Regions from separate parts of the Homo sapiens genome. Here region 2 is linked to region 1. The links come from fine-mapping of genetic effects on gene expression. A gene starts in region 1. The other region holds a variant in brackets. All regions are shown on one strand. Distances are between the middles of the regions.

Evidence for each region. PIP is the estimated chance that this variant, and not a neighbour inherited with it, causes the effect. A credible set is the group of variants that fine-mapping cannot tell apart.
Region 2: its variant is the best candidate, but not a certain one, in a credible set for the expression of NR1I2 in whole blood (TOPMed, PIP 0.86).

What each region holds. Positions count from the first base shown.
Region 1 is chr3:119,779,617-119,784,002 of GRCh38, reverse strand. NR1I2 (nuclear receptor subfamily 1 group I member 2) reads right to left here and starts at 1,902. Exons shown (of 9, transcript NM_003889.4): 1 at 1,703-1,902.
Region 2 is chr3:119,808,432-119,812,817 of GRCh38, reverse strand. It overlaps NR1I2 (nuclear receptor subfamily 1 group I member 2), which reads right to left. Exons shown (of 9, transcript NM_003889.4): 3 at 2,624-2,757; 4 at 1,092-1,279; 5 at 1-132. Among named protein-coding and RNA genes, the nearest start is that of NR1I2, 29 kb to the right of the region's middle. RefSeq lists enhancers at 2,582-2,641, 2,619-3,122 and a silencer at 2,852-3,111. The variant T/C (reference allele first, on the strand shown) is at 2,060.

The DNA.
Region 1 (4,386 bases):
ATTGGAAAAGCTTAAATATCTATCGAAAAGAAAACGGCTAAATAAAAGAAGTGTACACTGTGAAATATGACGTAGCAGTTAAAATAAATGAAGTAGAGCTCTATACAGATATGGAAAGTCTCCAAGTCTTGCTATTGAGTGGAAAAACAGAATTAGAACAACATGGCAACAGATAGGTTTAATAGTCCATCTATGCATAGATGAACACACACACAGACACAATGGTCTGGCAGTAAATATATCACACTAAGTACTTTTGGGGAAACTGGAGATTAGGATTGACAGAATGGCCAAAGGTGAATTTAGGTTTATCTATACTGCTTTCTCATTTTCAAGGAGCATGAAATCATGTATTACTTTATAATTTAAAAAGTTATTACCTAAAAAACCTAGTCTAGTCAGTTTTGTGGTTGTCTTGGGTTTATTCCATAATAATTTTGGAACAAGTTGACAGCTTTTAGATCAGGAGTTGGCAAACTTTTTCTGTTAAAGGCCAGATAGTTAATATTTTAGGCTTTGTGGGCCATACTGTCTCTTTCGCAATTGGTCAATTTTGCTGACTCAATGAATCAGCTATAGCAGGCACTATTCCTCTCCCACATGGCCTCTAATGATATGGCCAGAGTTGAAAGGATGTTGTAGGGCAAAAACAGCCATATACAATACATAACGAATGGGCATGGCTGTGTTCCAATAAAGCTTCATTTATAAAAACAGCTGGTGGGCCAGAGTTAGCCTGTGAGCCATAGTTTGTCAACCCCAGGTTTAGACTTTTATGACATAACTAAAATATTTTTAAAGCGTATTTGTGTACCACAAAATACTTTTTCCCATTAACCAACTGATTAAATAAGCCTCTGAGGCCTCCCTTAGCATCCTTTCAACTCTGACCATATCATTAGAGGCCATGTGGGAGAGGAATAGTGCCTGCTATAGCTGATTCATTGAGTCAAGACTCAGTGGCCTCAGAGGTGTCTGTTGACCTGTCCTAGATATGGAGTGGCCTTAAAGCAGTGCCTCTGGCCATAGCTTCAGCCGAGCTGGGCTGTAAAGTGGAGAGAAGAAGGACCTGGTGGCACTGACCACATGCAGGCAAGACTCGGTTCTGTGGGACAAGGTGCCCTTTCAATAGTAGAGGTAGAAAACTCACTGGTTTGAAGCCAACTCAGCCGCAGCACTGTGCAGGGGTATGGCAGGTGCTCTGAGGGACCCCTCCTTGAAGTGGTGAGTCCTGGTGACTGTCATGCTGCTGTCCTTGGCCTCAGGGGGCTGCCAGCACTAACCCAGCAGGCCAAAAGGAATCAGGACTGAGTTGATCCCAGTTCCCATAGTCCCCAGCTCCCACAGTCCTTGGAGGTGGTATTTCCTGGGTCCAGGGACTCCAGCCCTGTAACAGGGAGCTGGTTGTATGTGTGACTTGTGGTAACTCATGCAGTAGTTAAGGCTTCTCCTGTGGTGATTTTTCTAGGAGGCTAGTGCAGGACCAGAGAGCATCAGTAATGGGGCTCAACATTAAGTGATTGTTTTCATGCTTTTTTTTTTCCACCCTAGAAATGAGGAGACAGCAGCAAGGCCAACATGATTCACGACCCACTATGATGCTGACCTCAAACAGAAGGTATATTTGTGTTCACACACATCTTTTGGCTGGAGCTGAAGGGCGGTCAGCCCCCAGCAAAAGAGAAAGAAAGAAAAACCATACCTGCTTGGTGGTAAGTTCTTTGCTCCGACTTCTCCCCTGGGGTCCACTTTGAACAATCCGGTGCAAAGGATCGATCAAGGAGTAGCTTTACCAAGGAGCCGCTGCCTTGTTCAGGACAGGAGTATTAGCTTATTCTCTTGCTTTTCTCACTGTGAACACTTGGCTTGCAGGCTGAGGCCGAGATTCCCACTGAAGTAAAGGCAGTGCTTCCTCTTCCCGTCCTAGTCATAGGTTATGATTTCCCCGGATATGAGACAATCTTGTCTCTCACCTATATTTCAGTCCAAGTCAGATGTAGGCACTAAGCGGCTCCATTGCCCCTCCTAAGTCCCAAGTCCAGCACTTGAACTAGCAAATGAAGAGATTACCGTATTTGTTCTCATTATGTTCTCCCTACTTTTTTCTTTCAGGTCTCTTCACTACAAAAACACAGGAAAAGGGGAAGAGAGTGGCAAATATCCGCTTTGTCTAAGTAATTCTGAGTGCATTTCATCAGTCTGAGGGTCTCTGTCCTTTACCACTAGGGGCAACATTAATTTGAACCTAGATCTCCTTATACTTCCTCCTTTGTTGAAACCACCTCCCTGGATAGTGTTACTTGATGTGAAAGTGAGCAAAGTATTGATTTATGACGGTGCCAATCACCAGCATGGTTATGTAAGAGGGGGGCAGGCACACAGGGAGAGGGAAAGGGTGTGAGATGAGGGGGCTGAGCACAGTTCTCGAGAATGTGACCCCACCACTTTGATCTCAGAACAGAAGGCTGACCAGGAGTGGGGAGGATGGACCAGCTGAGGGCTCTTTCCTCTCCCGGGTCCTGCCAGAGGGGAGCTGAAGAGTCCTCACTCTTCAGCCTCAACCTTCTTATTCCCTAGCAGCAGGTGCTCCCAAGTGAACAGAATCAACAAAAGCCGAATGTGGTGGATACCAGGATGTGTTTCTTCTACTTGCTTTGTTTATAAAGATGCTTTATGGCAGGTGAGGGGAGTGGAAGTAACTGCTCCTACCTAAAAGGCAAACAAGTACAAGCCTCTGGCAACAGTAAAGCAGGGGCATGGGCCCCAACAAGAGAGGGAGAGGGAGACCACGATTGAGCAAACAGGTAGAAAAGAGAACCTGGGATTGCCAAAAAATGACCACAGTTGTCTTCAGGTGAACATTTGGACTTCCTTACATTTATTTATTGACTTAAGTTGTTATTATTTTGAAGTACATGCTTTAATCCAGCCCTGGTGAGAAAAGCCAGAATATCTAAGTATGATTTGTTTGTTTTGTTTTTAATTGGTTTCTTCTCTATCCAATTTGCACTTCCCAAGGGATGAGAAAGACTTGAGGCTGGGATTTCCTAGGGGTTGACATTTCTCAAGTGGATGCTTGCCTTGCTGTTTTCAACCAAGCGCAGAATGTAAGGTGCTTACACAGCTCACTGCTGGGGACTTACTGCCAGCAGTGGGGACTGGGACCCACAGCCATAGAGCTCTGTCCTTTTTCCAGTCACATTTCTGATTATCCACATGGGATTCTGCTAGGGCTAGGAGGTATTGGATTACAAATCCCACTGGACAGAAAGTTGACTTGGGCCTTAGGCAGGGAGGACCTAGAGTAAGTGAAATATTGAATGTCATGAGGATATTGGAAAGAAAAAGAGTAAGTGAAATACTGGATTTCAGTACCAGTGGAAGTAGCCTGAACAGTGTGCTCTGGGGTAGGAGGACAGCATGGGGCTATATCTGGGGCCTGCAGGTCCCCTGAGAAACACAGATCAGAAGGCCATGGCTAAAGCCAAAGAGGGTGGGAAAGCTGGAAAGGGTTAAGAACTCACCCCAGGAAACTTATTTCCAAGATCAAAAGTAGGCCTTTCTGCACTGACAGGTATCTCCAAGTCCAGGGAAAAAAGGCATGACTCCAGCTCAGGTAGGCCACCTTGCCAGAAGTCCTTAGGTTATGGGTAACATACGTAGCTTTCATCATCTCTCAAATCCCTTCTGGCTCACAAGGGCCTGACCTTCTCTCTCTTAAAAATATAGTGAATTATTTACAGCAGAAACAGGAAACTAAGAACAGATTATGAAACCACTGAGGTAAAGGAAATATTCTCAGGTTTCTGCAGGGATCTTTGGGTCTCTTTTCCTTTGGGTCTGTGGTGTGAAGTCCCAGCTAGAAGACAGGAGAAGGCTGTAGGAGTGCCAGGCCTCTCTAGTCTAGCACTGCACTGTTAATATCAGACATGGCTCTATAGTGAAATGAGTTAAGAATACAGCCAGAAAATACACTCTCGTTCTTAAGGACAGCTTACTAATGCCCTCAGTTGAGGGCCAGAGTCACTCTCAAGCCCAGCTGGGAAGTCAGAGAAATTTGAGGCCTTGACCTCCATTCTATACTTTGCCTATTGCAGCAACCAGAAATGTAGAGCTCCTAAGAAACTCATCAGAGAAAAGCAGATCTGATCAGCCTGAAGAGTTTCTTTTTTTTTTTTGAGACAGTGTTTTGCTGTGTCACCCAGGCTGGAGTGCAGTGGCATGGTCATGGCTCACTGCAGCCTCAACCTCCTGGGCTAAAGCAATCCTCCCACCTCAGCATCCCAAATACCTGAGACTACAGGTGTGTGCCACCATGCTTGGCTAATTTTTTTTTTTGTTTTTCTTTTGTAGAGACGAGGTCTCATTATGTTGCCCAAGCTGGTC
Region 2 (4,386 bases), 29 kb before region 1:
CCCCCGCAGCTGCAGAGAGACCTTCAAAGAGCACAGATCTTTCCGGACCTGGCTCCACTTGGCAGCTTCTTCCCTCGATGGGGCCTGCAGAGACTCTGGCAACTCGCAGCCACTGCTAAGCACCCCTGGCAGCTAGGACACATGCCAGGAGGTGGACAGAGGAGAGACAGCATGTGCTTTCATAGACAGGTCCCAACTCAGGCCCCAGCCAAACATGCACAGCCACAGTTGCAGCTCGAGAGGATGCACAAATGCAGGCATTCACACCCACATGCATGCGTGTGTCCTCACACATATACACACACAGCATTTGTTTCTTCTCTCTGGTGTTCTCTATCAGATGAAGGTGCTTTGGGGATCTATGAATTAATGGTCACACACATCCCTGCTTGGTTAAAATGGAGGGTAAGGGGGACTGCAACCATGGTGTGTCATCCCAAGCATTCCAGATGTTGGGCTCAGGAGACTCAGAAGGTTTAGGGTGCTATGGATGGGAAGAGCAGATCTGAGGTCACTGGGCTAATCCAGTTATTTGGGCTGTGAAGGGCCACTTGAGATATCTATCAGTGCAAAGGGGAAGGAGGGCACTTAGAGCACAGACATAGTTAATGTGCTGGGATCAAGAAACACCAGTTCACAAAAGTCACACCCCCAACAGGTCCTGATCCTGTCCTCATAAAGCCCCGAATGCCAGCAACACTGGGGAACTGCCTAGCTTTCCCTCCACTTATTGCTTAGACCCAGTTCCTACCTGCCTTAAAGGAGAGAGCAGTGATTTTTCAAACCTGAACCTGCAACAGAATCACCGGGGGGTCCTGCCCCTCCCTGGAGCTTCAGATTCAGGAGATCTGAGGTGACCTGAAAATCTGCATGCTGATGCTGCTGACCCAGGGACCACACTTTCAGAACCTTTGGGAATGAGACTAAGGCTTTGAGGAGCTAGCACAGATGCAGGACCAGCTCTCCAAATCTACCCTCCACCACTGATTAGCTGTGACCTTGTATAAGTTTCTTATCCTTGGGGAACCTCAGTTTCTATGTGAGAATGAAGATGGCAGTGACACCTCGGGTCACTGTGCAGTTCCTCCTACCCGGAAATTCTTGAAATGGGAGAAGGTAGTGTCAAAGGTTTTCATCTGAGCGTCCATCAGCTCCCTGATCATCATCCGCTGCTCCTCTGTCAGCCCCTGCACTCCCAGTGGCTGAGTCCCTGTCCGTTCACTTTTCTTCCGCTTGATCAAGGCCCGCCTCTCCTCCACGGCCTCGTCGGACATGATCACTGCAGGGACAGTGAGGCTGGCTCAGGCACACGTGCCCCTGGTGAGCCTCCAGCCCCCTGGAGAGCCACTGTGTAACCCTCTCAAGGCAGCAGAAGCCGTTAGGCAAAAGAGAAAGTAATGGTGACAAGCAATTCTCCCCTGTCTGGACTCAAGAGGCCTGTGGGCTCTTCTGGAGAAACACTTGGGTGAGGACAGAGATGAGGTGAGGCTGGTGTTTTGCCCTCTGCAGTGGAGTTTGTGAGGACACTGTGGGGCCCTGGCAAGAGCACGGGCTTCAGAATCCAAAGGCGCTGGGTTTGCATGAAAGCTTTGCCACTTACTACCTGTGACCCCAAGCAACCTCCTTAACCTCTCCTGCCTCCAGGTTTCTCCTTTGTGATCCGGAGAAACCGTGTTTACCTCGCACCGCTGTTAAATGAGACCTTGCATGTAGGGTGCCTAATATAGTTCCTGGTACATAAGAGATGTTCAGTAAATGGCATCTACAATTATCATTTTCTGGTGAATTATATACCAAGACTCTTCAGAGGTGTCTGGGTCTCCAAGACCCTAGAGAGCTGGGCTACAGCTTAGCAAGAAATAGCAACTCCAGAGACTTCTTATATAGCCCAGAGCCTTAGGGTCTTCTGTGGATTTCTGGAGCCCACTCATGTGTGTAGAACAAAGCTATGAGGTCCTTGGTGGGGAGAGATCAAGAATGCCTGCCAGCAGCCTAGAGAACTTGTCCTTGAAAGAAGCAGCTTTGGGTCCCTTTGTGTTCCATGGAGACAAATATGCAC[T/C]AGAAACACCTAGCCTTTTCCGCATGAGCCTTAATCTCATAGTGACCTAGGAGCACAAATATATCAAAGTTAAATAGGTAGAATGAGAACACCTCATGTCACCTGTCTGCAAACAGTTCCCCTATAAAGATCCAGGTCTGGGGCAGCTGATGGGGCTAGCACCTAGAAGGCCCCGGGTCCTATCACCCATGTGGCTCCTGCTTCCCTCCCCCAGATTCACACTCCTACCCGCAAATGTGGTTTCAAACCATTACAACAATTATGAAGGGGACAAAAAGAATGATGCAGGAGCAACTGAGGGGAGACAGAGGGCACGCCCTGTCCAGGGCTGCCCAGCACACATCCCAGGGCAGAGATTACCGACTCCCTCCATCTCCCAGAGGGCCGACTGCAAGCGCTCCCCCAGGTGGCTGCCTGTTGCACACGGACACCAGCTCACATGTGCACGTGTGTTCACGCGCACACTCGGCGCGCATCTCCACACAAGCATGCCCACACCCACGGCACGTCCTTACTCAGAGCCGTGCACCCCGGCGCCGGCCCGCCCGCGCGCCCACTGCTCACTCTCCTTCTTCATGCCGCTCTCCAGGCACTTGCGCAGGCGGCAGGCCTGGCACTGTCGCCGGGTCTTCCGGGTGATCTCGCAGGCGCCCTTCCGGAAGGGGCACCTCAGCCGGGCGTTGCGTTTCATGGCCCTCCTGTGAGAGAATGGGGAGCAGAAGGGGGGATGCACGGGTGCCCGGGCCCTCGGCCTGGGGCTCCGGGCCATACCACCTCCCTCCCCAGCCCCTACCGACTCGGGGAGGGGGACACTAGCCTTTGCGTCCCAGCTGGGTCAGGCTTTATGGGAAGGGTGTAGGTGGGAGTCCCTAGAGGTCCAGGACTCAGCTAGAGGGGGCAGAGCCGGGGAGGAGACCTTTTCTGGCCATTCCGGCAGGAAATGGGACACGTGCTTTTCGCTGGCGCGGGCAGCCCCAAAACCACTTTCAGGGACACTTCCTCTCCAGGCCCATCCTCAGCGCCTTCCCTTCTTCCTGAAACACCTGTCCCCTTCTCTTTCACAGCCTTGTTACCAGAAAGTTTCCATGGAGATGGGCCTCTTCCTCGATTTCCCCTCCTTAAGGGAGGGAGCTGAGGAAACCTGACCCCAGGAGGGTAAGAAACCAGAGAAGCCCGCCCCACCCCCCCGCCTTCCCCCCCGCCTTCCCCCCACCCCCCGCCGCCTTCTCCAGCTCCCCTTCCAGACTGGGCGGCCAGGGAGGAAGGGGTGAACTATGGGGAAGTTCTTATACCCTACGGGGCAGCGACTTCCCCATGGCAGAGTGGATTCCCCTCGTTGACCTAGGGGGCAAAGAGGTCGAGCGCCTGGAACAGCAGAGCGTGCAGGCGGGACCCACGGGCCCGCACACCCCTCTCTGCGGTGCGCAGAGAGGCAATGGGGCAGATGCCTTTTGGAGACTCTGGTACAAGATCTCCTCCTCCCAGCCCGGAAGTCCTGCCTGTCCCACAAAAGACACGGTCAGTGCAGTCCTACCTTTACTTTCCCCATCTCCACAGCTGGATGGAAAGAAACAATCTCTCCCTTGGCTCTGGCCTCTGATTCTGGTCCAGAGTGGAAACTGAGGGAAGGCTGGCCCAGGAGCATGGAACAGCCAGGTAGGGCTGCAGAGGTCCCCGAGGGCAGGCCTGGGAAGCTGAGCCAAGCCCGCAGTGACCTGGCAGGTTTGAGCTTGGAGGCCTCGGGCCTCGGACCAGTGACCAGCCCAGGGGCATGTTCTTCACAGATGCCATCCCTGCCTTTTGCCTTCCCAACTGGCCTGGGTAAGAAAACTCTGATGCTACATCAAAGTCCACTGAGAATGGGTAAAAGATGAAACCGGGGCTCACATTATTTAAAGGTATGCTATGTATCAGATGCTAGGCTAGGTATTTTGCAGTTTTGTAAATTTAGTTCTAAAACCCTGTGAAACTCATAATCTCATCTGCCTAGCACAGATGAGGGAGACTGAGGCTTGGAGACGATGGATCCCCAGCTGTCCTCCAGGTACATGACAAGCTGAAATTTGAATCCAGGTCTGCCTGATACTGGATTTAGCTTTTGCCCACTACAACATGTTGCCTTTTTCTGAGAGTCCCAGGAATAGTACCCAAATGAGGAAGGGAGAGCAGAAGATTCCTGCATGCTGAGGCAGGATGCACGAACACTGCTTGGGCAGCCTCTTCTGTGCCAGCAGCATCTGGAGCTGGTGCAGACATCCACCCTCTTCCACACAGTCAAGTGGCGTGTGCCCAGCTCAGGGACATACCTGCTGCTCTTTGCTAGTGAC